4 separate regions of the Homo sapiens genome follow, and all the other regions are reported to be linked to region 3. The links are microRNA targets in miRTarBase. Many come from high-throughput screens and were not tested one by one. Region 3 holds a microRNA gene; each other region holds the end of a gene's coding sequence.

Region 1 (7,123 bases), not on the chromosome of region 3:
CTCATCATCAAAAAATAATTATTCAATGCCTGCCTTATATAGAGAATCGGAAACAGTTATCTCAGTGTCCTTGTTGTTTTCAGTGCATTAACAGGCCTTAGTAACAGCATTTGGGTGCATTCCTAATTTTGTATAGACTATGAAAGTGACCTGTCATTTATAATACTACTGAGAGGCTTTGCCATTTATGCTCATTTTCCTGCACTAGCTATTGTCAACACTTAGAAACTTGTCTTCTATTGCAAGATGCCAGTTTACTCCTCTCCCTGGCAAGCAAACCACACACGTGCCTAAAAGAATCCTTCATACATCTTAAAGTTATCCTTTCCACACGCAGTATTCAGCAAGAGAATATTCTAATAATAGACAGTTTTGACAATATTTTGCACACTTCCTAAATTATATTTCTCCTAAGTAATTATATTTAAAAATCCAAACAATTTGATTTATAGTATTCTGGCTCAAAACCAGGCAGATGAGAAATTTATCTACCAGCTATATGGTTCCTCCAAATACCTGGGTAAAATTGAATTCCTCCTGTTTGAGTTGGAAGTTTAAGCTCAAAATCTAGTGATCTTTATAAATTGGGGGTATATTGAAAATGTGTATTTATATAAATGTATGTTTGATGTAAATAATTTATTCCAGTGTTACTGTTGCTTGAAGAATACTAGAAGTAACAAACACTATTTTGGGACTTTTTTGACAGGGTGACAGTGGGGGACCATTAATGTGCTACTTACCAGAATATAAAAGATTTTTTGTAATGGGAATTACCAGTTACGGACATGGCTGTGGTCGAAGAGGTTTTCCTGGTGTCTATATTGGGCCATCCTTCTACCAAAAGTGGCTGACAGAGCATTTCTTCCATGCAAGCACTCAAGGCATACTTACTATAAATATTTTACGTGGCCAGATCCTCATAGCTTTATGTTTTGTCATCTTACTAGCAACAACATAAAGAAATTCTGAAGGCTTTCATATCTTTATTTTGCATTGTGTCCCTTTCTATGTTCTATATAATGAACATCATTTATTCTTCTAGCAATTAATTGCCTACATTAGAGATTTCATGTGAACATTTTATGGGCTATAAGTATTGTGACAGATATACAATTGTAATTTTGGCACTGAATCACATGTCTCCTTGAAATATCTTGATTATTTTATAATCATAATTCTGTATCTGGAATACTCATAGAGTTTGTACAAAATATTCAGTTAAACATATATTTTATGTGTATAAATGCCAAATAATAGTTTATAATTAAAATGAAAGCTGTCATTTGGTTAAATTAATAAAAATTCTTTCTTAGATTTTATTCTAAAAAATGTTTGTATGATTTTTTTAAATTATAATCTTGTTTCCAATTCTCAAAGTATATTTAGAGAAACAAGTATTTATCTGTTATTTAAATTCTAATTAAAACCATTTATTTAATATCAGTACTTCATTTCCTCTGCCAAGAGAGCTATGGTATACACACCCCCAAATAATTTACTTTTTATTTAGAAATTTATGACTTTTTTTCAGGAGTATAACCTACTTTCTAAACTTTATTTTCTTGAAGCCCATGCTAAAATTTTGTATCCCATGGGGCCTCTGAATTAACTGTGAGCAGCAACTGGAAAGCATGCCGGGTAAAAGAGGGACGCCAACCTGGGATAAACTTTATGATAACTAATGTATAAAATGAATTAAAAGAAACAAAAGAAAATGAGGGCCAGGCATGGTGGCTCTCACCTGTAATCCCAGCACTTTGGGAGGCCGAGGTGGGCAGAATCACTTAGGTCAGGAGTTCAAGATCAGCTTGGCCAACATGGTGAAACCCTGTCTCTACTATAAATACAAAAATTAGCGAGGCATGGTGGTGCATGCCTGTAATCCCAGCTACTTGGGAGGCTGAGGCACGAGAATTGCTTGAACCCGAGAGGTGGAGGTTGCAGTGAGCCAAGATTGCACCACTGCAGCTTGGGCGACAGAGCTGGACTCTGTATCATACACACACAAAAAATGAAACAAAAGAAAATGTTGATTGAATTATATCTACTATTAGTCAACTCTCATTTCCCTTGAACTTAGGAGAATCCATTTAGCAAAGGAGAAATAGTTATTTTCTTATCCTTCTTTTTACATTCAACATCTAAAACCAAGTGTTCTTTGTTGTTGTTTTGTGTCAACCTAATTTCAGGATTTAAATGAAATTAAGCATGAATATCCCATGTATTAATTTCTTTCATTACTGGTTTGACACTGGGATTATTGTTTATTGGTTTAATATTGGGTTAATGTTGTTTAATATTAACATTTAATATTGGGTTAATATTGCTAATATTGGGATATTGTTTATTGGTTTAATATTGGGGTTATCTATCCCACTCAAGGAATATATGACTATGCTTTTTATAGACGAAGCAACACTGATGGAATGTTGGTTGTTCTTTCTTGAAAGAGCTCCTAGTTTATCCATCGACAAGGTCTCACAGATGGTAATGCTTATATAGCAATTAGCATGATGCACTAGTCTTTTCCTATTTATACTACCTGAATATCACTCAGATTCACTTGAAAGCTCTGAATGTTAATAAAAAGAAATTCTTCTAAAATGTACTGCCAGAATTAGAGGAGAAACCTTTGCTTTTCACTTTAAAGGCATCTTCTAATTACTCTTTAGGTTTACGTTTCTTATCTATGTATTTATTTTGGAGGTGGAGTCTCTCTGTTGCCCAGGCTAGAGTGCAATGGCACAATCATTGCTCCCTGCAGCTTCAATCTCCTGGGCTCAAGCAACCCTCCCACCCCAGCCTCCTGCATAGCTGAGACTACAGGTGTACCCCACCACATCCAACTGTTTTTGCATTTTTTGTAGAGACAGGGTTTTACCATGCTGCCTAGGCTGATCTTGAACTCCTGGGCTCAAGTGATCTGCCCACCTCAGCCTCCCAAAGTGCTGGGATTACAGGGGTGAGCCACCACTCCCAGCCTAGGTTTACAATTCTATTCTTTTTTTTTTTTTTCCTCCTTTTAATTCTAATCTCATGACAGATTAGATTACATTTCTGATCGGGGAGAGCTATTATCTGCTATTTATCTTTTTGCCCAGCTTAGTTTACTATGTCAGCCAGCTGGAATCCAATTATAAAATTTCTCTCTATCACAAGAAACTACCAGAGTATAAACTTTGGAAATCTAAGACAGACTTTGTTTCAACTTTTGTTTTAACATTGTGTCCTTTTTTTTTTTTTTTTTTTTTTTAAGAGGCTCTGTCACTCAGGCTGCCTAGGGTGCTGTGGCATGATCATAGCTCACTCCTGGGCTCAAGAAATCCTCTGGCCTCAGCCTCCCAAGTAGCTAGGACTATAGGGCCCAGACCACCATGCTCAACTAATTTTTAAATTTTTCATAGAGATGGAGTCTCACTATATTGACCAGGATGGTCTTAAACTTCTGGCCTCCAGCCATCCACCCACCTCAGCCTCCCAAGGTACTGGAATAACATACATGCACCAAGTTGCTTGGCCTTTGTTTCCATTTTCACTCTGTTATTTAGTATCTATAAAAGTTTAGATAATTATTAATACCTATTTACAACATTGTTGTGATGACTACAAAAGTTGAGTATATGAAATTCTTAACATTTGAAAGATGCCAGTAACAGGTTTCTATTATTATATTAATATCCCATCTATCATTCACACACTCTTTCTCATTACAAAGATCACTATCCTATTGGATGTCTCATATATCATCCCCCAAAATTACTGAAACAAAGGATCCTTTTCTGCTTATAAATTCAAATTTTAAAATATGCTATTTTAAAAATAATTTTCATAATTCCCCAAATATTATATCCTTATTATTTAAACTGAGAAAGGGCCAAGCATGGTGGCTCATGCCTATAATCCCAGCACTTTGGGAGGCCAAGGCAGACAGATAGCTTGAGCCCAGGAGTTTGAGACTCCTGGGTGAAACCTCGTCTCTACAAAAAATGCAAAAATTAGTCAGGCATGTTGGCATGCGCCTGTAGTCCTATCTACCTGGGAGGCTGAGGTAGGAGAATCACCTGAGCCCAGGAGTTCAAGGCTGCAGTGAGCCGTGATCACACCACTACACTCCAGCCTGGGCAACAGAGTGAGAACCTGTCTCAAAAATAAATAAATACATAAATAAAATTGAGAAAGCACCGACAAGTAGAAAGAAAATCATCAGCTGAGCGTGATGGCTTACACCTGTAATCCTTGGGAGGCTGAGGTGGGGACAGATTGCTTGAGCCCAGGAGTTCGAGACCAGCCTGGGAAACATGGCAAAACCCCATCTCTACAAAAAGAATTAAATTAGCCAGGTGTGGTGGTATGCCTGTAGTCCCAGTTACTGCGGAGGCGGAGGTGGGAGGATGCTTGAGCCCAGGAGGTAGAGGATGCAGTGAGCTGAGATCATGCCACTGCACTCCAGCCTGGGTGACAGAGCCAGACCCTGTCTCAGAAGAATGAAAAGAAAATCATCCATAACCCTATTATGTAAAGACAGCTGCCATGAAATCCTACCTTTTTCAGTTACTATAATGGGTATTTTTACAAACCTTTATTAAACATTATTTTACCCCAACTATTTTGAAAAATTTCAAACCTACTGAAAGTTGAAAAATAGTACTATGATTACCTGTATATACTTTACCTTTTTCCCCCAAATATTAACATTTTGCCGTTTACACTCATACTCTCTCTCTCCAAACACAAACACACACAGACTTACACAGACATATTATACACACACAAACTCTCTCTCTTTTGTTTTCTGGTTGAAAAATTTGAAAGTAAATTGCTGGCATCATGTTACTTCATCCCTAATACTTCAGCATGTATCTCCTAAGAACAGTGACATAATCACAACACCATCATCACACCAAAGAAATTTAACACAGATTTGTTCTATTTTATAAATTGTGCACTCATTTCTTTGGTTTATTAATCTATTGCATAGATATTCCATTATTTTATATTGTTTCATTCTGATTATAAAAGTACAGTATATGTTCACTATAAAGAAAAAGCACAACTATTACAGAAACTATTTGGGCTGCTATAACAAAATATAATAAAATGCTGGCTTATAAACAACAGAAATTTATTTCTCACAGTTCTGGAAGCTGGGCAAGGCGCCAGCTATTTCGGTGTCTTCTGAGGTCCCACTTTCACCTTCACAGAAGGCATCTTCAAACTGTGTCCTCACATGGCAAAAGGGGCCAGGCCACTCTCTGGAGCCACTTTATAAAGGAACACTAACCCCATTCACGAGGGCTCCATTCTCATAATGAAATCACCTCCCAAAGGCCTCACCTCCTAATAGCATCACATTGATGATTAGCTTCCCAACATGAATTTTAGGTGGCCACAAACATTCAAATCATAGTACTTTTTAAGTAAAATTTTAGGAATTAAGTCAAAACCACAGACTGAACACATGTTCTAGCCACCTTCCTGTTCCACATTCCTAATTTGAGAGTATTATATTTATTTTAAAATCAGTAATAGTATTTCCTTAATCTATCCACTGGAAAGGCCTAGATGCAACAAACAACCAATAATAACATGTACCCTAGCACCCAGATTCTAGTCTCTCAATGTCATTCCCCTATAAAACGATCCAAGGCTCCTTAGAGATATGAATGATTTCAGGTCTAGGGCAGGAAATATATGGGATAAATCTCAGATAAATCTTTGATAACATGGAAGTTATCAAAGACTAGATAGTCAAACTGCTTTAAAAATATTGAAAACAGTCACTAGAAGGTGGGGAAACAAATTACATATTACGATATAATGATATTATTGATTGACTTCTCATCAGACACAATGGCAACCAGAAAAAATCTGAGTGACGACCAGGCGCAGTGGCTCACGCCTGTAATCCCAGCACTTTGGGAGGCCAAGGTGGGTGGATCACAAGGTCAGGAGTTCAAGACCAGCCTGACCAACATGGTGAAACCCCGTCTCTACTAAAAATAAAAAAAATTAGCCAGGCATGGTGGAGTGCACCTGTAATCCCAGCTACTCAGGAGGCTGAGGCAGGAGAATCGCTTGAACCCAGGAAGCGGAGGTTGCAGTGAGCCCAGATCGCACCACTGCACTCCAGTCTGAGTGACAGAGCGAGACCCCATCTCCAAAAAAAAAAAAAAAAAAAAAAAAAAAAAAAAAAATCTAAGTGACATATTCAAAGTGCTAACAGAGAAAAAACAATTATTAACACAAAATTCCATATCCAAAAAAATTAATCTCCAAAAAATAAAGGTGAACAAGGACATTTTCAGATAAATGAAAACTGAGAGAATAAATTGCCAGCAGACCTGCATCGTCAAAAATGCCAAAGGAAGTTTTTCAGACTGAAGGGAAAGGACACAGGGTGGCACCTTGCATTTACAGGAAGGAATATGACATGAGAAATCTTAGTGGGTAAATATAAAGGACTATATTTCTTTTCTTCTCTTAAATTACTTAAAATACCTATGACTATTTAAAGTAAAAATTATGACACTATATTGTTGAGTTATAACATCTGTAGATGTAAAACATATAATAATGATAAGAATAAATGGAATGATATTATTTCAAGGTTCTTTTATCTAAAATAATTTCATATTAATGATTATTAGATTGTAATAAATTCGGATGCATGTTGTAACCTCTAGCAATCAGTAAAAATAAAAAAGATGTAGCTGAAGACCTAGTATTTGATAGCACAACAGGGTGATTATAGTCAAAATAATTTAATTGTATATTTAAAAATAACTTAAAGAATATAACTGGATTGTTTATAACACAAAGGATAAATGCCTGAGAGGATAGATACCCTATTTTCCATGATGTCATTATTACACATTGCAAGTCTGTATCAAAGTATCTCATGTACTCCATAAACATATATACCTACTATGTACTCACAAAAATTAAAAAGGATGTAGTTGGCCGGGCGTGGTGGCTCACGCCTGTAATCCCAGCACTTTTGGAGGCCGAGGCAGGCAGATCAAGACATCAGGAGATCGAGATCATCCTGGCTAACAAGGTGAAACCCAAACGCCATCTCTACTAAAAAAAAAAATTAGCCGGGCGTGGTGGCACGTGCCTG
Region 2 (7,123 bases), not on the chromosome of region 3:
AAACTATAAGGCTCTAGTCACCAAAACAGCATGGTACTGGTATAAAAATAGGCACATAGACCAAAAGAAGAGTGAACCCAGAAATAAACCCAAATACAGCCAACTGATCTTCAACAAAGCAAACAAAAACATAATGTGGGAAAGGACACCCTTTTCAACAAATGGTGCTGGGATAATTGGCTAGCCACATGTAGGAGAATGAAACTGGATCCTCATTTCTCACCTTATATGAAAATCAACTCAAGATGAAATAAGGACTTAAACCTAAGACCTGAAACTATAAAAATTTTGCATGATAACCTTGGAAAAACCCTTCTAGGCATTGGCTAGGCAAAAATTTCATGACCAAAAGCAAACGCAGTAAAAACAAAGATAAATAGCTGGGACCTAATTAAACTAAAGAGGTTTTGCATGGCAAATGAAACAGTCAGCGGAGTAAACAGAGAACTCACAGAGTGGGAGAAAATCTTCACAATCTATACATCTGCCAAAGGACTAATATCCAGAATCTACAGTGAACTCAAACGAATCAGTCAGAAAAAAAAAAAAAAAAAAAATCCCATCAAAAAGTGGGCCAAAGACATGAATAGACAATTCTCAAAAGATATACAAATGGCTAACAAACATTTAAAAAGTTCAACATCACTAATGATAAGGGAAATGCAAATCAAAACCACAATGCCATACCACCTTATTCCTGCAAGAATGGCCATAATCAAAATATCGAAAAACTGTAGATGTTGGCGTGGATGCAGTGATCAGGGAACACTTCTACACTTCTAGTGGAAATCTAAACTAGTACAGCCGCTATGGAAAAAAGTGGGGAGATTCCTTAATGAACTAAAAGTAGAACTACCATTTGATCCAGCAATCTCACCACTGGGTATCTACCCACAGGAAAAGAAGTCATTATTTGAAATATAGACCAATGGAACAGAGAACCCAGAAATAAACCCAAATACTGATTATTTGAAAAAGAAACTTGAACATCCATATTTCCAGCAGCACAATTCACAATTTTGAACTCGTGGAACCAACCAAAATGCCCATCAATCAACAAACAGATAAAGAAACTATGACATATACATATATGTTGGAATACTACTCACCACAAAAAGAAATTAACAGCATTTGCAATGACCTGGATGATATTGGAGACTATTATTCTAAGTGAAGTAACTGAGGAATGGAAAACCAAACATCATATGTTCTTGCTGATATGTGGGAGGTAAGATATGAGAATGCAAAGGTATAAGAATGATAAAATAGACTTTGGAGACTTGGGGGGGAAGAGTGGGAAGGGGGAGGGATAAAAGACAACATATATGGTGCAGTATATACTGCTCAGGTGATGGGTCCATCAGGGTCTCACAAATCACCACTAAAGAACTTAACTCATCTAACCAAACACCACCTGTACCCCAATAAATGGAACAATGAAATTAAAAAAAAAATCATTCTTATACTTACAGACCAGCTCACATAATGAATATTTCATAAACTATTACACACAGGCCAGGCACGGTGGCTCACACCTGTAATCCCAGTATTTTGGGAGGCTGATGTGGGTGGATCACCTTAGGTCAGAAGTTTAAGACCAGCCTGACCAACATAGCAAAATCCTGTCTCTACTAAAAATACAAAAATTAGCTGGGCTGGTGGCGGGAACCTGTAATCCCAGCTACTTGGGAGGCTGAGGCAGGGGAACTGCTTGAACCTGAAAGGCAGAGATTGCAATGAGCCAACATCACACCATTGCACTCCAGTCTGGGCAACAGAGCAAGACTCCAGCTCAAAAAAAAAAAAAAGGAAAAAAAAAAGAAAAAAAAACTATTAAACGAACAAACAAAATTATGGTTCTAACATGAGTAACAGTCAAGTTAAAACAGAGAATTTGCATGGGGAGATTCTGAAGCATAAGCCAAAAGGTTATACAGTAATAAATTTAATACAAAGTACAGAGGATAGATTTACTTTCAGTAATTTTGAGAATTTTGGTTTTTTTCTAGTAAATTAGACACCTTCTTAAAATGATTTATTTTGTTCCAATATTACTTTTTTTTGGCTAAAAATAGTTTCAAACTTACACTAACACAAACACACTCCATAATTTATTTACATCTAAGATTATATATCACATGCCTGTATCAAAATATGCCATATATGGCATAAGCATATACACATATTACATATCCACAAAAATTAAGAAAAATAAATTTAAATGTAAAAATAAGAATAAAATTTAACCTATAGGAACAACATTCTTTAACTTATTGGCAATTTAAAGCCACTGACAAAAAGATTACTAGAGATGTCAGTCCATTATCTTACCAAATAGTGTATTGTTACCATCTTTTACCTACACCATTGAGTAAGGTGGAATAGGTTAAAGTTAGTGGCATAATGCTTCAATGAATTCATGATAGTATTTAACATGTTAAAAATGCTGAATTGAAAAGTTAAGTTCACACATAATTTAAAAATATACTGTATATTATTCCATAAAAGTACAGTAACATACTACTAACTTAATGTTAACTAAAGAATGTTTTTCAAGTGCTCAATGGTGCCCAGGCTGGAGTGCAGTGGCGTGATCTCGGCTTGCTACAACCTCCACCTCCCAGCAGCCTGCCTTGGCCTCCCAAAGTGCCGAGATTGCAGCCTCTGCCCGGCCACCACCCCATCTGGGAAGTGAGGAGCGTCTCTACCTGGCCGCCCATCGTCTGGGATGTGAGGAGCCCCTCTGCCTGGCTGCCCAGTCTGGAAAGTGAGGAGCATCTCTGCCCGGCCGCCATCCCATCTAGGAAGTGAGGAGCGCCTCTTCCCGGCCGCCATCCCATCTGGGAAGTGAGGAGCGTCTCTGCCCGGCTGCCCATCGTCTGAGATGTGGGGAGCACCTCTGCCCTGCCACCCTGTCCGGGATGTGAGGAGCGTCTCTGCCCGGCCGCCCCGTCTGAGAAGTGAGGAGCCCCTCTGCCTGGCAACCGCCCCGTCTGAGAAGTGAGGAGCCCCTCTGCCCGGCAGCCACCCCGTCTGAGAAGTGAGGAGCCCCTCCGCCCAGCAGCCACCCCATCTGGGAAGTGAGGAGGGTCTCCGCCCGCTAGCCACCTCGTCCGGAAGGGAGGTGGGGGGGTCAGCCCCCCGCCCGGCCAGCCGCCCCGGCTGGGAGGGAGGTGGGGGTCAGCCCCCTGCCCGGCCAGCCGCCCCGTCCGGGAGGGAGGTGGAGGGGTCAGCCACCCACCCGGCCAGCCACCCTGTCTGGGAGGGAGGTGGGGGGGTCAGCCCCCCCGCCCGGCCAGCCGCCCCGGCCGGGAGGGAGGTGGGGGGGGTCAGCCCCCCGCCCGGCCAGCCGCCCCGTTCGGGAGGTGAGGGGCGCCTCTGCCCAGCCGCCCCTACTGGGAAGTGAGGAGCCCCTCTGCCCGGCCACCACCCCGTCTGGGAGGTGTACCCAACAGCTCATTGAGAACGGGCCATGATGACAATGGCGGTTTTGTGGAATAGAAAGGGGGGACAGGTGGGGAAAAGATTGAGAAATCGGATGGTTGCCGTGTCTGTGTAGAAAGAGGTAGACATGGGAGACTTTTCATTTTGTTCTGTACTAAGAAAAATTCTTCTGCCTTGGGATCCTGTTGATCTGTGACCTTAAAAAATAAATAAATAAAAAATAAATTAAAATAAAAATAAAAATCAAACTGCCATGAAAAAAAAAAAGTTTTTCTTTCATGATAATGCATAAAAATATTACTCTGAACACCTACCTCATGCATCACTCAACATTACAAGTTAACCCAAAGAGCCTCTCTACTTAAATTTTCATCATGTATCTTACATTTTAATGTCCTTACCTTTCCATAGAAAAAGTCATAAAGGCCTACCTAATAAAAAAGAATCTCTCATATCTTTAATGCAGCTACAATTAGTCACATGTTTTCACATGTGAATACACCAGGAATGATGGAACAGCATGAAGTAATTTAAGAGTTTAACTCCATTATTTGCTTTTTTAAAATTCTGTATTTTCAAAAAAAAGTTATACTTTGATTGTAATTATAACTCTCCAAAAAATATTCTTCTTTTAAAGTTATATACAAATAATGTTTACACGAACTTTAGTTTGTATTATTTCCTATACTCAGCACTGATTTAGTGTAATGTCTAAAGTTTGAGTGCCCTAAATATTTCTACTGTGAATTATTCCCTGATATTTACATAGACTTAATTTTGGATTGAACATCTTTCATATTTAATGCATCTGCAAAAATATATTTTAGTATGAACGCTTTGGTGTTTCATAATTTGTAGTTTTTGAAAAAATGTTTTTCCAAATTCATTACATTTGCAGGGTTTTCTTCAATATAAACTCCCTGATGTTGAACAAAATTTTAATAACTGCCTCAGGGTTTTCCTCTAGTACAAAATGTGTACAATAAGATCTGTGAGACAAGTAAATGTATTACAACCCTCTTCATATTTGTAATGCTTTTTCAAAATAAATATGCTTCTGCACTTTAAAGACATATTTTCTGATCTTTTGACGGTAATTAGATTTTTAATGCTTTTATTCAGTATGAACTCTGATTTTGAGTAAGATGTGAGCAGGTATTAATGGCTTTTTTGCTTTGTCTATATTTGTACATTTGTTCTCAAATATAAATGCTTACCGGTGCAATAAGCTATGAGCATTGGTTAGAAGCTTGGCCACATTGTTCACATTGGTAGTTTTTTCCAGTATAAATGATCTTACATACAATGAAGTGCAACAATCATTTAAAGGCTTTGTCACATTCTTCACATTTCTAGGATTTGTCAGCAGCATGATTTTGTTTAGAAAAGTTTGAGATGCTGTCAAAGGCACTGGGCACATCTTTCAGATTTGTAGAGTTTCTCTTCAGTATGAATAATCTTATATCTGTTAAGAATTGAGGACTTTTTTAGGCTTTCCATATTATTCACACTTGTAAGATTTCTCTCCAATATGAGTTATCTTATCTGTAGTAAGATGTGAGGACTGGTTAAAGGCTTTGCCAATTTTTTCCCATTTGTAGGGTTGCTGTCCAGCATGAATTTTCTTATGTCTAGTTAGGGCTGAGGACCAGAAAAACACTTTGCCACATTCTTCACATTTGTAGAGTTTTACTCCAGTATGAATTACCTTATGTTTAATAAAAGTTGAAGACAGGTTAAAAGATTTCCCACATTCCATGGGAAACCTGCCCCTGTGATTCAGTTACCTCCCACTGGGTCTCTCCCCACAACATGTGGGGATTCAAGACGAGATTTGCGTGGGGTTACAGCCAAACTGTATCACCAGCCTTGCCCCTGGGCAGAAGCAGCAGCAGTCTGCCTGGCTGGATTCAAATGATTCTGAGACTTCTATAGTCTATGCCTCCAGATCTCTCCCTCACCCATGCTATGGTGTCTGAAATTCCACCATTAGAGAGTCATTTCTTGGCCTCTGTTAAAGGGACCAGGCTCTTTATAAAGCAAATGCCCCTAAGCAGCTGGCTCTGGCTTTATCAGGTATCTTTTCCCTGCCAGAAGGAAGGAAGCTAAGGTGCATCTGGGCATACTGTGTGCCCAGGCACTGTGCCAGATGCTTTGGATACTTGGAGTCATTGAATTCTGGTAGTAACTCTGTGAGAGAGGGAGCCTTTTCCCCACATTGCAGAAAAAGGAAAAAGAGCTCAGAGAGATCAAGAAATATCCCTGAGATCACATGGCTCCTAGTGGAGTCAGGATCCAAACCCGGTGTGTCTGATTCCTTAGCCCTTGGGGGTCCGGAGGCTGCTGAACAAGAGAGGAGCTGGAGAGGAGAGAAAGCCACAGGAATACCACTGTACACCCTTCTTGATTCTAGAAAGACTGTATGAAAATTCTGAACAGTGAACAGAATAAACAATAAAGGTGCAATGGAAAAAAAAGAAAGATTTCCCACATTCTTCAGACTTGCAGGGTTTCTTTCCAGTTTGAATTATCTTATGGTTACTCAGGATTGAAGACTGCTTAAAGGCTTTGACACATTTTTCACATTTGTAGGGTTTCTCTTCAGTATGAATTACTTTATGTTCAGTAACAGTTGAGGAACATTTAAAGGCTTTGCCACATTCCTCACATTTGTAAGGTTTCTCTCCAGTGTGCATCCTCTTATGTCTACTTAGGGGTGTGGACCATATGCTTTGCCACATTTTTCACATTTGTAGGGTTTATTTCCAGTATGAATTATCTTATGTGTAGTAAGATTTGAGAATGATTAAAAGCTTTCCCACATTCTTCACACTTGTAAGGTTTCTCTCCAGTGTGAATTATCTAATGTTTAGTAAGATTTGAGGATTAAAAGCTTTTTCACATTCTTCACATTTGTAGGGTTTCTCTCCAGTGTGCATCCTCTTATGTTTAGCGTTGAGGACCATATAAATGCTTTGCCACATTCTTTACCCTTTTTAAGGTTTCTCTCAAGTATGAATCCTCTTATGCTTAAAAAGGGTTGAGGACCAGATAAATGATTTGCCACATTCGTCACACTTGTAAGGTTTCTCTCCAGTATGAATTATCTTATGCGTACTAAGATTTGAGGATCGATTAAACGCTTTTCCACATTCTTCACACTTGTAAGGTTTCTCTCCAGTATGAATTATCTTATGTGTACTAAGATTTGAGGATTGATTAAAAGTTTTGCCACATTCTTCACATTTGTAGGGTTTCTCTCCAGTGTGAATCCTCTTATGTTTAGATAGGGTCGAGGACAATATAAATGCTTTGCCACATTCTTCACATTTGTAGGGTTTCTCTCCAGTATGAATTATCTTATGTGCAGTAAGGGTTGAGGACTGGCTAAAAGCTTTGCCACATTCTTCACATTTGTAGGGTTTCTCTCCAGTGTGCATCCTCTTATGTGTAGTTAGGGCTGAGGATCGGCTAAATGCTTTACTACATTCTTCACATTTGTAGGGTTTCTCTCTAGTATGAATTTTCTTATGTTCAGTAAGGTTTGAGGACCATATAAACGCTTTGCCGCATTCTTCACACTTGTAAGGTTTCTCTCCAGTATGAATTATCTTATGTTTAGTAAGATTTGAGGATCGATGAAAAGCTTTGCCACATTCTTCACATTTGTAGGGTTTCT
Region 3 (7,123 bases):
GCATTCTGAGAGTCCTTTATTCTATATAAAAGGCCCGTATTGCTCCTTAAGAGATCCAACTGACCCTAGTTTTTAAGACAGTAGAAAACAGGAGTCAGTTATTTTGGAGATATGTTAAATCAAATGACAAATGTTGATGCATTCTTTAACATTCTTAATTTTTCAAAACCTGCTCTTTAATCTCAAAATTTTTCAAAATATCACTAACAATTTCCTGTAGGCTAGATCTTGGCTTGGTTATATGATCAATGCATAAAGAATTTTTAAAAAGCAGCTTGAGAATAACAATCTATATTAAAAATCAATATAAATCCAAATTACATATATAAAATAAAAATATAATTTATATAAATAAAAAGTTGAAATAAAGACTAAATAGGCATATTCTGTTGCACAGTGAAAAATAAAATTTATAAAGTTAATGGCTGGGCGTGGTGGCTCACACCTGTAATCTCAGCACTTTGGGAGGTCAAGGCAGGTGGTCCATTTGAGGTCAAGAGTTTGAGACCAGCCTGGCTAACATGGCGAAAACCTGTCTCTACTAAAAATACAAAAATTAGCCAGGTGCAGTGGCATGCGCCTGTAGTCCCGGCTACATGGAAGGCTGAGCTGAGATCGCACCACTGCACTCCAGCCTGGGCAACAGAGCAAGACTCCATCTTGAAAAGCAAAAAACAAACAAAACAAAAAACAAAAAAAGTTAACAGTGACATTTACTGAAGTCAGCCAATGAATAAAAGGACTAGAGTAGTATTGTTTTTATATAGCAAATCAAAAGTAAAATAAAGTATGTCTGTCATGCTCCTGAATTTCCTTGGGTCCGAACTTAAGAGAACCCAGATAATTATACCACTAGGCTCTGGAAGTACTAGAAAGCCACAGTTGAGAGGGACGCTATTCCCTTGTTTATTTATGTATTTATTTAGAGACAGAGTCTCACTCTGTCACCCAGGCTGGTGTGCCGTGGCACAATCTCGGCTCACTGCAACCTCTGCCTCCCGGGTTCATGCGATTCTCGTGCCTCAGCCTCCCAAGTAGCTAGCATTACAGGTGTATGCCACCATGCCACGCTGATATTTGTATTTTAGTAGAGATAGGGTTAGGCCATGTTGGCCAGGCTGATCTTGAACTCCTGGCCTCTAGTGATCCGCCTACCTCGGCCTCCCAAAGTGCTGGGATTACTGGCAGGAGCCACTGTGCCCAGCCCATTCCCTTGTTTTAAAACAGACACTCATGACTTGGAAATGGATTTACATACTGAATGAACAGTGACACACTCCTGTTCCCTGACCCCACGAAGTGGCAAAGTAGGACTACAAGGCCCAATCCAGAGGCTCTGGTCATTTATCCAGCTTATGAATATTTACTGAATACTTGTACTGTGCCAGGTGTTATGATAGGTGTTTGGGGGAACAACATTAATTCTAAAAGGGAAACACACAGGTGACTTCAATACCCATCTGGTTGGCATTAAGATAGAGGTAAGTAAAGCCACCCTGAACTCCCAGATTGGGTACTCGGAGAACAGGCTGCGGCCCAACCTGGGGGGGTTCAGTGACTTCCTGGAGACAATGGCAGAGTTGAGTCCTAATGCGTTAGTCATCTGTAAAGAATAAGAAGAACCTTCTAAGCAGGGGAACAACATGAGTCCTGTGGCACGAAACAGCATGATGTGGCCAGAAACCAAAAACAATCTGCTCCTCCTGAAACCTAACTTTTGAAGTAGAGTGGTGGAGATGAGGCTGGTGAACAATGCAGGGACTCAGTGTGGGAAACCCAGGAGTTTGAACTTGAATCTCCAGTATAAACAAATTGTAGGTGGTAGAGTGCCTTGGTCAGACCTGCATTTAAGACAGATCAGGGGCCAGGCTCGGTGGCTCATGACTGTAATCCCAAATCAGGCTGGCTTCTCTGAGACAGATGGAGTCATGGAAACCAGTTAAGATGCTACTGCAGCTGTCCAGGTAAAAGCCATGAGCCTGAACATGATGCAGTACCAGGGATAGAAATGGAGGGGGTGTGGACAGCAAATTTAAGAACTGTTTTTAAGAGCTAAAATCAGAAACATTACATGATTTATTAATAATCACTCCCTTTCTTAATATCCTTTGATAGCTCTACTACTGCCTGCATACAACCTATAGCCAATAGGACTCGCAGTGGGTGGGTGGTGGCAGAGGTGGTAAAAGAGAGGTGCTGAAGATGATTTTCAGTCAGAAGGAAAGAGCTGAGAGGGCGATCAGAGGAAGAAAAGAACTTTTTCCACTGCTACAACCTCCCAGAATCCCTTCCTCTGTCTTTCCTAGAGCTGAAGACCTTCACCACAGTGAAATAACTAGAAATCAGCAACATTCCTTTGTCCTTGGGCTAGAACAGGGGTGAGCAATCTGCTCCACAGCTTGTTTTTATAACCAAAGTTTTGTTGGAACATGGCTGTAGCCATTTGTTTATGTATCATCATCCATGGCTGCTTCTTGCTAAAATGACAGTGTAGTTGTGACAGAAATCATATGGCTCACAAAGCCTAAAACATATACTGTCTGGCACTTTATAGAAAAAGTTTGCCAACTCCTGAGCTAGAAAATTGATGGGAAAGGTTTAAGAAAAGATTCATCGGACCCCAAATCTCCACATCCAGAGCCCTTGGAAATCCAACAAGGCTAGTAGACTTAAAAAACAAATCAGTCATTCAGATGAGGCCTTGGCGTAGAACTCTTTAACCTAACTGCTACTAAAGCCAAACTGAAATGCTCTTAGGAAAAGGATGTTTTGGTGATGAGGGAAAGTAAGGGAGATTTAGAGCATCGGCACCACTTGGTGGGTTTTTAGACAGTCTTGCTTGTTTGTTTCTGGACAGATGGAGAATGGCTTCACTGATAAATTCCATTGCAATGTCACTGGGGGCTAAGGCTGCACTTCCTCCCCAAAGCCCAACATTCTTCATTCAACTGGACTCATTCTTGCTTCCTGAAATGCTCAGAGTGACAATGTGGAGAATGAAACCCTGATGACTGGGCTCTGTGACAACTCATAGGAAAATCGGGGGGTGGAATATTTTATGGGAAATGGCCCAACACCAGCAGTAGGAAGCAAACAGAAGGTGAGAACAGACTAGACCTATGTATGGCAGTGGCAATTAATAAATACAACAGTTATACCATAATACATTTATTTCATTTGTCTTATAACGCATAATTATTTCTTCTTTTTTCAATTCAGGTAGTTTGAGCTGTTTCCTGGTTTAGAGTCTTATCAGTCAAACCTAACACACTTTCTCGTTTTATGACTGCTGTATTAGGGTTCTCCAGAGAAAAAGAACCAATAGGATACACCTCCCTCTTGAAAGATTCATCAGAAGCTATTTGCTCTGTGATTATGGAGGCTGAGGAGTCCCATCATCTGCCCTCTGCAAGCTGGAGACCCAGGAAAGCTGGTGTTGCAGATCAAAGGGCTGAGAGCAGAGAGCTGATGGTGTAGATACCAGTCCAAGTCTGAAGGTCTGAGAACCAGGAGTGCTGAGGGCACAAGATTCATAGCCCAGCTCAAGATTGAATTCAAAGAGTGAATTCAATCTTCCTCTGCCACTTTGTTCTATTTAGGCCCTGAATGGATTGGATGATGCTCACCCAACTGGACCCATATCTACTTTACTCCGTTCACCAATTCAAAATGCTAACCTCTTTCAGAAACACCCACACAGACACTCCAATAAAATATTTAACTAGATATGTAGGAATCCTGTATCTTAGTCAAGTTGACATGAAATTAACCATCACAACTACATAATAAAAACCAGTGATAATCAGCATATCAGTAATTATGCAAAATAGTTAGATTCACCTTACCATAGACAACAACCTATTGATGGCTACTGCCCGCTGCTGGGCTTCTATATGAGGCATTTCATTCTGAATTACTTGGTCTGTGATTCCATGAGGGAACTGGTGACATAATTCTATAATCCTAGAAACAAAGGTATTAATGTTATCCTTCATGGTTACCTGTTTCAAGAGACAGTGGGGGTAAAAATACAAGTAGAATAGTTTGAAACTGTGCCTTTTTCACATTTGGCAGACAATCTGGGTTTCTGTGATGGTTTTGGATCAAAGCATGTTAGAAATTGAAGAAGATGATTTCTAAATACATGTTTACAGTATTATTGTTATTTAAGAATATTTCTTTTCCTCACTAATAAGAACTTTAAATTAGAGCAAAAGTCTAATGAAATCACAGAAAAAATATTAAAGCTGAGACTTCAGTTTTCTCGGGTGTAATAAGCATGACAAAGTTAAGCCATAAATCTGCAAGCAGGAGGCAAATGCAGATGTTTCTGGTAGGAAGCCAAAATTTGTTATGACAATTCACCATAATGGGGCCTGTTTTTGGAATTATACCTACCAAACAAAAAAAGTCAAAATCTTCACCTAGTCGACATCAACAAATGTATTATTCCTAACAGTCTGAGAAAGTTGAGTCTTTTAAAACTACGTGAAAATCTAAGAGTGGCAGTGCCTCGGTAAAATATAAAACTGGGCCGGGCGCGGTGGCTCACGCCTGTAATCCCAGCACTTTGGGAGGCCGAGGCGGGCGGATCACGAGGTCAGGAGATCGAGACCATCCCAGACAACATGGTGAAACCCCGTCTCTACTAAAACATAAAAAATTAGCTGGGCGTGGTGGCGCGAGCCTGTAGTCCCAGCTACTCGGGAGGCTAAGGCAGGGGAATCGCTTGAACCCGGGAGGCGGAGATTGCAGTGAACCGAGATCGCGCCACTGCACTCCAGCCTGGCGACAGAGCGAGACTCTGTCTCACAAACAAACAAATAAAAATAAAAGTGGCAGAGGCTTTGGGTGTCCTAAAAGTCTTGAGTTCAATACTGCACTGAAACCACCTGGCTTAATGTTACTTCGTAATCACCAACTGCGCCCTAACTCCGCCTAAACGTTTTGTCATAGACGTTCCCTTAGTGACAAGAGCGATCCTGGATCAGAACATGTATTCACAAGTGTTCTACAGGGAAAGAAAGCCGAGGGCTCCTCTCAAAGCACTGATCGCGTCAAAGTAGGAAGGCAGCACGTCATCACAACTTCCCCAAAAGTATCAGGGCAAAGCCAGCCAGCTACACAAAGTTGCAAGCTGTCAAACCCATTTTGAACTTCTTGAGTTCTGCTCTCCCAGGATGGGAAGGAACAAGTGGGTCCAGAACCCCGCAATCGTTTTTCCCGCGTGCTCACCTAACCCGCTCCGGCCACTCCCAAGGGATCCCGGAGAAGGGGTCCAGCTGCCCAAATGACTGGGCGCCTGATGGAGTGCCAAGCCGGAGCCTCACTGGTTTACCTGTTTTCTATTTCGACCGGATCCGCGTCAGGCGGCTGCACCTTCACCTTCACCTCCGCCATGAGGGCGCAGTTCCTGACGCCTGGGGGGAAAGATGCACGGAGCAGCCCGGTAGCAAGCCGGGGAACCCGGGGAACCAGTGGAGGATAGCGCTCTGCTGAGGCCGAGGGGCCTTCTTCCTCGTGTCGCAGCCGGTCCTTCCTTGCCTTTCGGCGGGAGGTGGCCAAGCTGCGCCTGCTCCGGCCCACTTACAGGCGCCGCTACAGCTTCTTATTCTTGTTTTCCAGAATGTCAATGCCCATCGGACGCACAAGCCTGGTTCCTTCATTCTGAGTTGGGAAACCAACTTTTAGCACTTGGCAACTCTGTGAAGGAATATTCTTAGATGCCTATGGGAAAGCACTGGGAAAGGAACTCCAGGCGGGTACCAGGCTCCCTGCGGAGCGGCAGGGGCCGGTCTAGTTGCTAAGAAGCTGAGTCTCCACCAATCATCTGCCCAGCACCCAGTGGGCGGGGCGCGGCTCGCCGCGTCTGTGGTAACCCGGGCGGCGGCGAAGGAGGAGGCAAGAGGCGGTGAGAGGCTGGCGACTGGGTTGGGCGCGGCAGAGATGCATTAGGGGTCCCGATCCCGGGCCCCGCGGTTAGAGGAAGAGGAGGGCGGCTAGAGGAGGGGAAGAGCTTCCCTTACTCCAGCCGAAAGGATGCAGGTGTCCTTGGCAGCCCCTGATGGGCGGGAACAACCAAACGGGATTCCGGATCCGGGCTGCGAGGGGGCGGTCCACGTTGGGAGAGTTGAGGGGTCTGGGGATCCTGTTGACTGCACGTTGCCATTTGGGCCTGGCGGATCCGCCTTTTTTCTTGATTCCCTTTGCGTGGGGCCCACTGGCCACCCCAGCTTCCTAAGGGCAGCTGCTAGTTGACGCTCGCGAATTACTTCCTCTCCTACATATTTTTTATTTAGAATTTTTCAACTACTTTTATTTTATCTGCCTTTCACTTAAATGGAAATGCGACTATGGGCAAGTCTCAAGTCCAGCCACACTCCCGTAGGAGCTATTGTTGTGCTGTCAGTATCTGTAGTTTATATTCTTGGCCCTAGATCCGGAACTATCCAACAAGGCATTAAGTTCACCCCTTAAATTTAGGTACCCCATTTTTGAGAATACAGTCTGTGACAAAGCTCAAACTGCAGACATGTTCAGATCAGCATTATTAGAACTGCAACAGGCAAAACTAAAAAGAAACTAGAAATAGCCTAAATGCCCAGCCACAAATGGATAAATAAGTACAGGGAAAACTAAATAATACAGTGAGAATGCAAGAAGTAGACTATAAAAATGGAATGAATATGTAGATTATAATTGGGCAAAATCTATGGATTATTAATGAAATTTGAAAAGGCAATACAGAGATGTAAATGGTTGTTGTGTTAAGGTGAGCGTTTTTTCCCCCTGAAACCTTCTGTGCATTAATTATGACAACCTTCCTCCCCACCCTCACCTCCAAAAAGACCAGTAAGGCTTTCATACTGGTAGTTAATTATTAATACCAGGATTTATAAATACAGTAGATGAAACGGGAGGCTTGTGTTTATTGGTCACTGTTTATATTCTTGCAAACTTCCTTTCCACTGAGAAGTAGTACTCTGCAGTCCTTCTAAAGTGTCTTTGCAGCTTTCAAATACTAGAACTGCTCTGGTGATAATGGCAAGGCTGTGAACCCGGAGCTTTCCCAAAAAAGTTAGCTCTAACTAACATTTTGTGGTACACACAGAATTACTTCTGT
Region 4 (7,123 bases), not on the chromosome of region 3:
TCTGGGTGCCACAGATGGGAAGCCAAGAACATAGGAGACAGCAGGAGTGCACTGCCCTGGGGCCTACAGTGGCTCTGAGCCCCAGCAAATGCCCCCCACTTTCATGGTCCCAGAACTGGTCATCAAGAGGACTCAAGGTCTTTGTGTCTACCCTGCATTCCAAACAGGACTCTGCCTTCTTAAGACTAGTTCATTCATTAGCTTCTGATCAGCCAGATCCTTGGCCACCCTCTATTTGAGTCAAGCCCCCGTCCCTGATCTCAGAACACCCCAAGTCCACCTTTTCCTCCCCCACGTGAACAAAATCAATTTCAGGGCAGCCCGCCGGCATTAAAAATTGCTCTACCTAAAGGTTTAAATACCTGGTTTTTGGTAAGTAAAATTCCCATACCACAAAAAGAGTACCAACAACACACCCTCATAAGGGGACCCTCCAGGACTCCCTGAACCTTCCCTGGAGCCCTGGTTTCTCCAGCTGTCCAAAGTTAAGGCTCCCATACACCTAGAGATCAAATATCAAGATGGTCAGTTGGGTTGGTTGGTCGTTTGGCCTACATGGCTCATGCAACAATTAATTCACCTGTCTGGCTCTCTGTCTCTGTCCCTCTGTGTGTGCGCCTGTGCGTGCCTCTCTGTCGCTGTCTCTCTGCAGGGAAAGTCGCTGGCGGGCAAGCGCCTCACGGGCCTGATGCAGTCCTCCTGACCGTTCCTACCGCAGGTCCAGGGCCTGGGCCCGCGGACCCCACAGGCAGGCGGCGGCGCTCCACATCTGCGGACAGAGTTTCCTTACGAGGAGACTTGGTCACTGTGAAGGAGAAAGAGTGAGGGCAATGAAGGGCGATGGTGGGGAGACTCGGTGGGTGAATGGGGAGACCAGAAAGAAAGAGTCCACAGAGCCTGGGCTGGGCCCGGTGGAGGCTCCTGTTTACAGCCCTCTCTTCTTTGTACAGTTGTATTCCAACACTCCACTCGCTAAGAGGCCCTGATCCCAGCTCATTCAGGGGAGAACACGTCGTGGGGTTCCTGTCACGACTATCACTTGAGATTATATTATTATCCTCACTCCCTCGCTGTCTGGAGACGGTCACACCTTCTGGCAAATTCAAGAGGCATGAGTGGACCGAGAGCACATCCAGCATTTGCATCACCTCCCTGGCACCTCCCATAGTTACAGCCACTACATCCCCACCGCCGCCTGTCATCCCTCACGTCTCTGTGGCCACCCGGGTGTCACTGCCAGCACCAGGCACTGCTTTCACGTAAAATGTCCAAATCACATCTTCAGCAAGAAAGCAACCTCACGGATTGCCCCGCCTCAAGGTCTTTCCACCCTCTTTGAGATCAGCGTTCGGAGAGGTCCCCGCCAGCCCGGTGGCTGCCCTCAGGTCCCGTCACATGTCTCAAGGGTCCAGCGTTCGAGGAAGCACTGTTGTAGATGACAGAGCTTTTTGTTTCACAGCTGCGGGGATTCTGCTGACCATCTTTTAGAAAATTATTTCATAATTTATTCTGGCTTTGCCCCCTTGCTCCTTGGTTTATTCCCTCATGTTTTACTCAAAATAAACATGGCCATGAACTCAGGGGCCATTGGGATTCTCCCCTCTGGCAGCCCCAGGTGGGAGCTGGGAGGGTCCCCAGCCCAGGAGGTGGCTGGATTGCAGGGCTGGCAGCCCCCACGTGGTGGCATCCTGACAGGCACAGTGAGACCCTTGCTGGGTCAGGTCTCCTTTGTGTGTGAAGCTGGGGCAGAGTATGCTACGAAGGGACCAGGCCAGGCCACAGGGCTCTCCTCCCAGTCTTTATCTGAAGGCCCAGCCAAAGCACCCCTCTAAACCGGTCACCTAGGGGAAATGCAAAAACCTGCAAAAGATCCACCTGTATTCCCTGTGTGTGTGTGTCAAAATGACCATTTGCCAACCTGGCTGTGAGGTAATGTATGTAAAGCACCGAGTCAGGTGCCTGATACGCAGTAGGTGCTTAGCAAACGGTAGCTAATACTATCATCATTGTCATTGTTATTGTGACACCCATGAGCCCACAGACAGAGCTGTATTAAGTAACCTGTTTTGAATCCAGACATTCACTCCCCCACTTGCTATGACTACCCTCCTTTGATCTATTTTTGGTCATAGGTAAAAAAAAAAATCTCTCTTGGGAGCATATAAACAAAAAACATAGAAGCAATAAAGCGATCGCTGGTATTTCTTTTCTCATGCAGCCAAATTCGCCAGCTGGTGACCAAAGGCTCAGATGCTTGCTTATTTGCAGACCCGGCCTCCTGGGTGCTCCCCAGTGACCCATCTTTCCACCCCACCACCTCCAAGTCCTGTCTATGTCTGCTTCCACACAGCCCTGTCCCCAGGGCACCAGCCTTCTGTCCCTCACAGCAGTGCCATCGCGGGCATTAGGAGTCTTCGTTATGTTGTATCCTTGTGAGTTCTTGACTACCATGCCCAAGTTTCCCCCACTGGCAATGGTTCCTCTCTTGGAGGTACAGTGGAAACCAGAGAGATGACAGATGTTGAGTCCTCAGTGTCTCAGAGGCAGCAATTCTTGCTGGACACCTGCACATGCTCAGCACAGAGGCTGGTACTTTGGAGGCACTAACCACTTGATGAGTAAATCAATGGCATAAAGCCCCATTCCAAGTTATGGGGTCTTTTGACAGGCCCCTTTCATCCTCTTTCTCTTTGTATAAACCTCATGTTTCAGAACAAAATTACAGTCTAAGTTCATTTGCCCCCAGCCTTGCCCAAGGATCCCCGGGCTGTGCTGACCCCTAGGCATAGGGCAAAGGGTGTTCCCAAGCAGCAGGCACCTCAGTGCCCTCAGTTATCCAGGGCAAGGGGCCTGGCTGCCCCCTGCTCCTCCCCATGATGCAGGGGCTTTCTAAGCCAGGCTGCAGACAGGGCAGGGTTGGCTTCTTGGCCATTCCCTCTGTGCCCCCTTCTCCTTCTGACTGGTCTCACCCTGGAGATCCCCAGAGGATCTGACCAGAGCCAGGTGGACTGTGGCCCTGAGATGGAGCTGGCTGCAGGCTTACAAGCACCTCTGGGGACATCCAGAGGGGAGGGTCAGTAAGCACAACGGAGCTAGGGAGACTTCAGATGGACTCAAACCCAGAGCAATAATACTCTCACACCACCCCACAGCTAAGGCACTCATGTTCCCCAGTAGATCAAGCCAGAAGCTTTGCAAGAAGGGAGTGGAACGAGGCTGCCTATCCAAGGTCCATCTACCACGCAGAACTTGGTCATGCAAGTACATTTGGAAAATCTGGTCTTGGCCCGTCCCCCATTGGCCTGGTCTACACAGCCAAAAATTCAGACTAGATTAGATGTTTGCAGGCAATTCTGTAGCAAAGCAAATTCCCCTACCCCGTCCCTTCCCCCTAGAAGCTGCCTTAGCCTCCCTGACTGGGTGTGGTCTCTGGGCCTAGGACTCCTCCCTATGAGGAAAAGTGCTCTCCAGCCACATCTTGGCAGCCCCACAACCACAGCATCAGGGCAGCTGCAGCAAGTGACCACCCACCCGTCGGGTTAGACACACAAGGCACCAGGCACTGGCATCTGACTAAAATAACCTTTCCCTACATGGGAAGAGGAAAGCTTGTAGGCTGGCACATATAAACGTCCAGCCGCAGCCAGATGGCCTGAACTAAGCAGCAGGAACTCTCTGGGCTGGGGAGGAGCCTCCTGCCCTTCTAGAAAGTGATGCGTCAGCTTTGTTCTCCTGGGAAGGTGTTGCTATACCCCAGGAACAAAGCAGGGCCCAACTGCCAGTGCAGTCAGCTGGGCCTGCGCTCCAGGCTCACCACCGCTAAGTGGTCAGGTACCGGGCCAGCATCCTGGGAGGGACCTCTTGCGACTCTGAGTTGCAGCTTGGACTAGCTGAACACATGGGGACATGCTCCAGGGGCTTCTTCCCTGGCAGGATTCCTGGGATTTCAAACTACCTCACCAACAGGACGCTGAACCAGGAGCCTGCCACCCAACTGGCCCCCTTGGTGATTGTGGAAGGTGATGTTTTTCCTAAAATGCATCCCTCCTGTTCTGCTCCATATACATGTGCTTCAAAAACCACCACCAGGAAAGCCTTCCCAGAAGAGGGAAAGGATTAAGGGCTCTCTTCCTTTGGGCCCTGCAGAATGTATTGGAGGGAGGTGTTGCTGCAAGGTCCAGGAGCTGGGAAACTCTGGGCTCGGGGGGAGATAATGCACCACCAGCCTCAAAAAGGAGCTGCCCAAGTTGAATATGTAGCAAAGACCATGGGATAAGTTGAATAGTGGCCAGACGAATCACTAATAACTCACCATGGGACCCTCTGAAGAGAGGCCTGTGCTCGTGTAACCATAGCAACAGCAGATGCCAGCAACCTACTCATTAGTACCACCCAGTGATAAGGCATCCCCTGGGCTAGACCCAGGGGCCATAAAGTAGCAAAGTAGCAAATGTAGCAATAAAGGGCCCGGGTCTATACGGGGACAGGGTCCAAATGACCAGGACTTGGCCCTCTCCCCAGCCCCGATGAGGGCTCAGAGCCAGCTGCTGTCAGCTGTCTGGGGAGGGAAGGCCCTGCTCCATACCAGGGGTCCCTGTTCTATACTCTAAGCCCACTCACCGCATGATCACGGACTCATCGGAATGGCCTCCTCTTAGTGCATGTGGTTCTCTTTAGTTTATTTTTCTGGAATTTGGGGATTGGACCCCAGAACCAAACATGCTGGTACAGTCTAAAAATAAATGACTTGAACCCACTTCAATCCAGCTAACTCTGTGTGGCTCCTTGGTTTGGGGGTTCGTTGGGCAGGATGTACCTCTAGAAAAATCGACCACCCCTCCCCACACTCCACCCTTCCCCATTATCACACACACACACACACACACACACACACACACACACACACACACACACACACCTGTTTCCTTCTCACTCCCAACCAGGCTGCCAGGCAGCACAGAAAAACCAGATCTCTGGGGCATTGGACTCATCCTGGTAGGTAGAGACAGTGGTGTCACCATAAGGCTGAAGTCCCTGACTCTGCCAGGGTCTCCTTGGCTGGGGGGTTCTCCAGACCCCATTGTCTGTACTCAGGTGCAAAACCCTGTGGCTGCTCTGACACCCTCTTGAATAAGATCCCAGGGTCAAAGTCTGCTGCATACAGACGGTGCTTCTTACACAGAGTCTCGGTTTCCTGAGCGACAGACAGTTGCACTTCCCACTAACGCCAAAGCAGCTGGACTCTGAGAGCCTGAGCGTCAGGCTGACAAGAGGAGGATGAGCGCAAGGTAAAAAGGCAGTGCTAGTGTACTGCAATCCCTCTATTAATGAGAAAGCCAACACCTAGCTGCATACTTCAGTGGCAGAAATTTTGCTCCTAAAGGTAGAAATGATTTCAGAGGCATGAAAATGGGACTCCAGTCACAGCTAGAAGGGAACCAACTCATCTTTCAATCCCTGGGCCACCCCCTTGTGCAGGATTTTCTGCCCCACAGAGTTAAGATCAAGTCACATCTGCCTCAGGTCCATAACATGTCCCACCTCACGTCCTGGTCCATCCCCAAAAGAGCCTGTCCTCTTTGACCATGGCCACCACCTCCAGGGAACCCAAGCTGCGCCTGCCTTCTCAGCTGGACCATCTGGCTTAGTTCCAGAATCTTTGCTTATCGGGCTGTTGCTGTGCATGCACTCTACCCTGACCGCCACGAGCAGGGCTCTGCTTTCAGGTCCAGAATCAAGATGGAGATTTGAGGCTACCAGTTATAACACAAAAAGCTGTGCCGGTCCAAGAATGAGAGCCATCCTGACAGCTGCCTCTCTCCCTACACCCTTCTGGGGACCTGTGGCATAACAGGCATGAAGCTGTCCTCTCCTTTGCTGCCAGCCTCCAATTGTTCATTGATCCCAGCCTCTGAGGAACCACCAGGGCCTCTGATGAGTGTCTCTGATCCTAGAACTTTTCCTGGGATGTGGCAACCTCCAAACCCAAGTAGTTCTCTGAGAGGCATATCCCCTCCTGGGCCCACAGAGCTCTGCCCAGCAGGCTCTCCCTCCGCCACCCTTCCTTCACAGAAACACCCATATGAACCCCTGACCCCCGTCGTGGGACTTCCGACACCTGCAGCTGGGCCCGTTCCCTGTACACAGCCCTTCAGCGCCCACAATGGGGGTTACTGGATCTGCCCCAGACCCCATACACAGAGGAGCAGGGCCCCCTGGCCAAAAAGAGGCTGTGGAATCTGGCTTATTTTAAAGGGGCCTGGGGTGTCGGGTGTAGCCACGTGAGCTCCATCTGTCACAGAGCTCTCTGGTACGCTCTTCCTCGCTTGAAGTGTGGGCTCGGTTCTCCTCCTCAGAGCCCTGAGGTGTCTCCTGGCCAGGTCTGGCTTATTTCAGCAGACAAAACGAAGTAACAGCCCCTGAGTGCAGAGCCCCAGAGCCACCCTCATTCTGAGCCTTAGTGTCCTCATTTGTGAAACAAGAATGAGAATTTCAAAATCTTCGGGTGGCTGTGAATTAATCTAGAGGGCTTAGCCTGGGCCTGACACATGGTAAATGTTCACGAAATGGGTGCTGGTGTTAGCTGGAGCCATGTCTGAGATAGGCATTGAAAGGCGGTGAAGGGAGGGTATGTTTGCAAATCCCTGCCAGACGGACAACTTCCCTGGCAGCCTGGCCCCTGAGAGCTGCCCTTCCCGCCAACCTCGAGGCTGTAGGCTTTGTTTGCCTGTGTGGGCAGCGGCCTCTCTCTGCCTCTGACAAGCCCCTGGCTCCCTTCTTCCCAGTGAGGACCTGGTTCCCTGTGTGTCACTTGGGTGGCCTCCATCAATAACCCTGCATTAGGCCTGAGAAACAGCAGAGTGGCGGGCCGGAGGCGCCCTCCCCAGACCCCACATGGAAAATGGAAACAGTGCAGATTCCCGCTGCCCATCTAGATCCCCGTTTGTCTGACGGACCTCATGGCTACTTCCGTGAGATTTGGACTCTGAGCTCTTGTTCCAAAATACTCAATTTCAGGCCAGTGACTCTGCCCTCTGACCTAGGACAAGGACCTGCCTCCGTCCTCTGAGAACACCTGGCGTCCAAGGGAACACGTGGACCTCCACGGGAGGGGCAGCCTCGT

Evidence for each region. Region 3 holds the annotated microRNA hsa-miR-3192-5p (UCUGGGAGGUUGUAGCAGUGGAA, at 2,261-2,283, opposite strand). A microRNA usually pairs through its seed, bases 2 to 8, with sites in the 3' UTR of a target mRNA and lowers its output. Matches are read on the target gene's strand: a 7mer-m8 pairs with bases 2 to 8, a 7mer-A1 pairs with bases 2 to 7 and ends in A, and an 8mer does both.
Region 1: miRTarBase lists TMPRSS12 as a target of hsa-miR-3192-5p. The part of its 3' UTR that is shown has no 7-base or 8-base seed match.
Region 2: the mRNA of ZNF726 is a reported target of hsa-miR-3192-5p. The part of its 3' UTR that is shown has no 7-base or 8-base seed match.
Region 4: the mRNA of RGS6 is a reported target of hsa-miR-3192-5p. Seed matches in the 3' UTR shown: 7mer-m8 at 1,790-1,796 and 7mer-A1 at 4,098-4,104.

Annotation. Positions count from the first base shown.
Region 1 is chr12:50,886,553-50,893,675 of GRCh38, forward strand. TMPRSS12 (transmembrane serine protease 12) reads left to right here. Exons shown (of 5, transcript NM_182559.3): 5 at 710-1,332. The coding sequence ends at 961. Among named protein-coding and RNA genes, the nearest start is that of TMT1A, 35 kb to the right of the region's middle.
Region 2 is chr19:23,933,297-23,940,419 of GRCh38, reverse strand. It overlaps ZNF726 (zinc finger protein 726), which reads right to left. Exons shown (of 4, transcript NM_001244038.2): 4 at 5,936-7,123. The coding sequence ends at 6,453. Among named protein-coding and RNA genes, the nearest start is that of ZNF276-AS1, 21 kb to the left of the region's middle.
Region 3 is chr20:18,465,784-18,472,906 of GRCh38, reverse strand. MIR3192 (microRNA 3192) reads right to left here and starts at 2,292; the gene lies at 2,216-2,292. It overlaps DZANK1 (double zinc ribbon and ankyrin repeat domains 1), which reads left to right and starts at 5,877. Exons shown (of 21, transcript NM_001367614.1): 1 at 5,877-5,911. POLR3F (RNA polymerase III subunit F) reads right to left here and starts at 5,517. Exons shown (of 9, transcript NM_006466.4): 1 at 5,339-5,517; 2 at 3,846-3,963; 3 at 1-65. The coding sequence starts at 5,400. RefSeq lists enhancers at 5,437-5,756, 5,379-5,997.
Region 4 is chr14:72,561,765-72,568,887 of GRCh38, forward strand. It overlaps RGS6 (regulator of G protein signaling 6), which reads left to right. Exons shown (of 18, transcript NM_001204424.2): 18 at 653-4,766. The coding sequence ends at 703. Among named protein-coding and RNA genes, the nearest start is that of MIR7843, 49 kb to the left of the region's middle.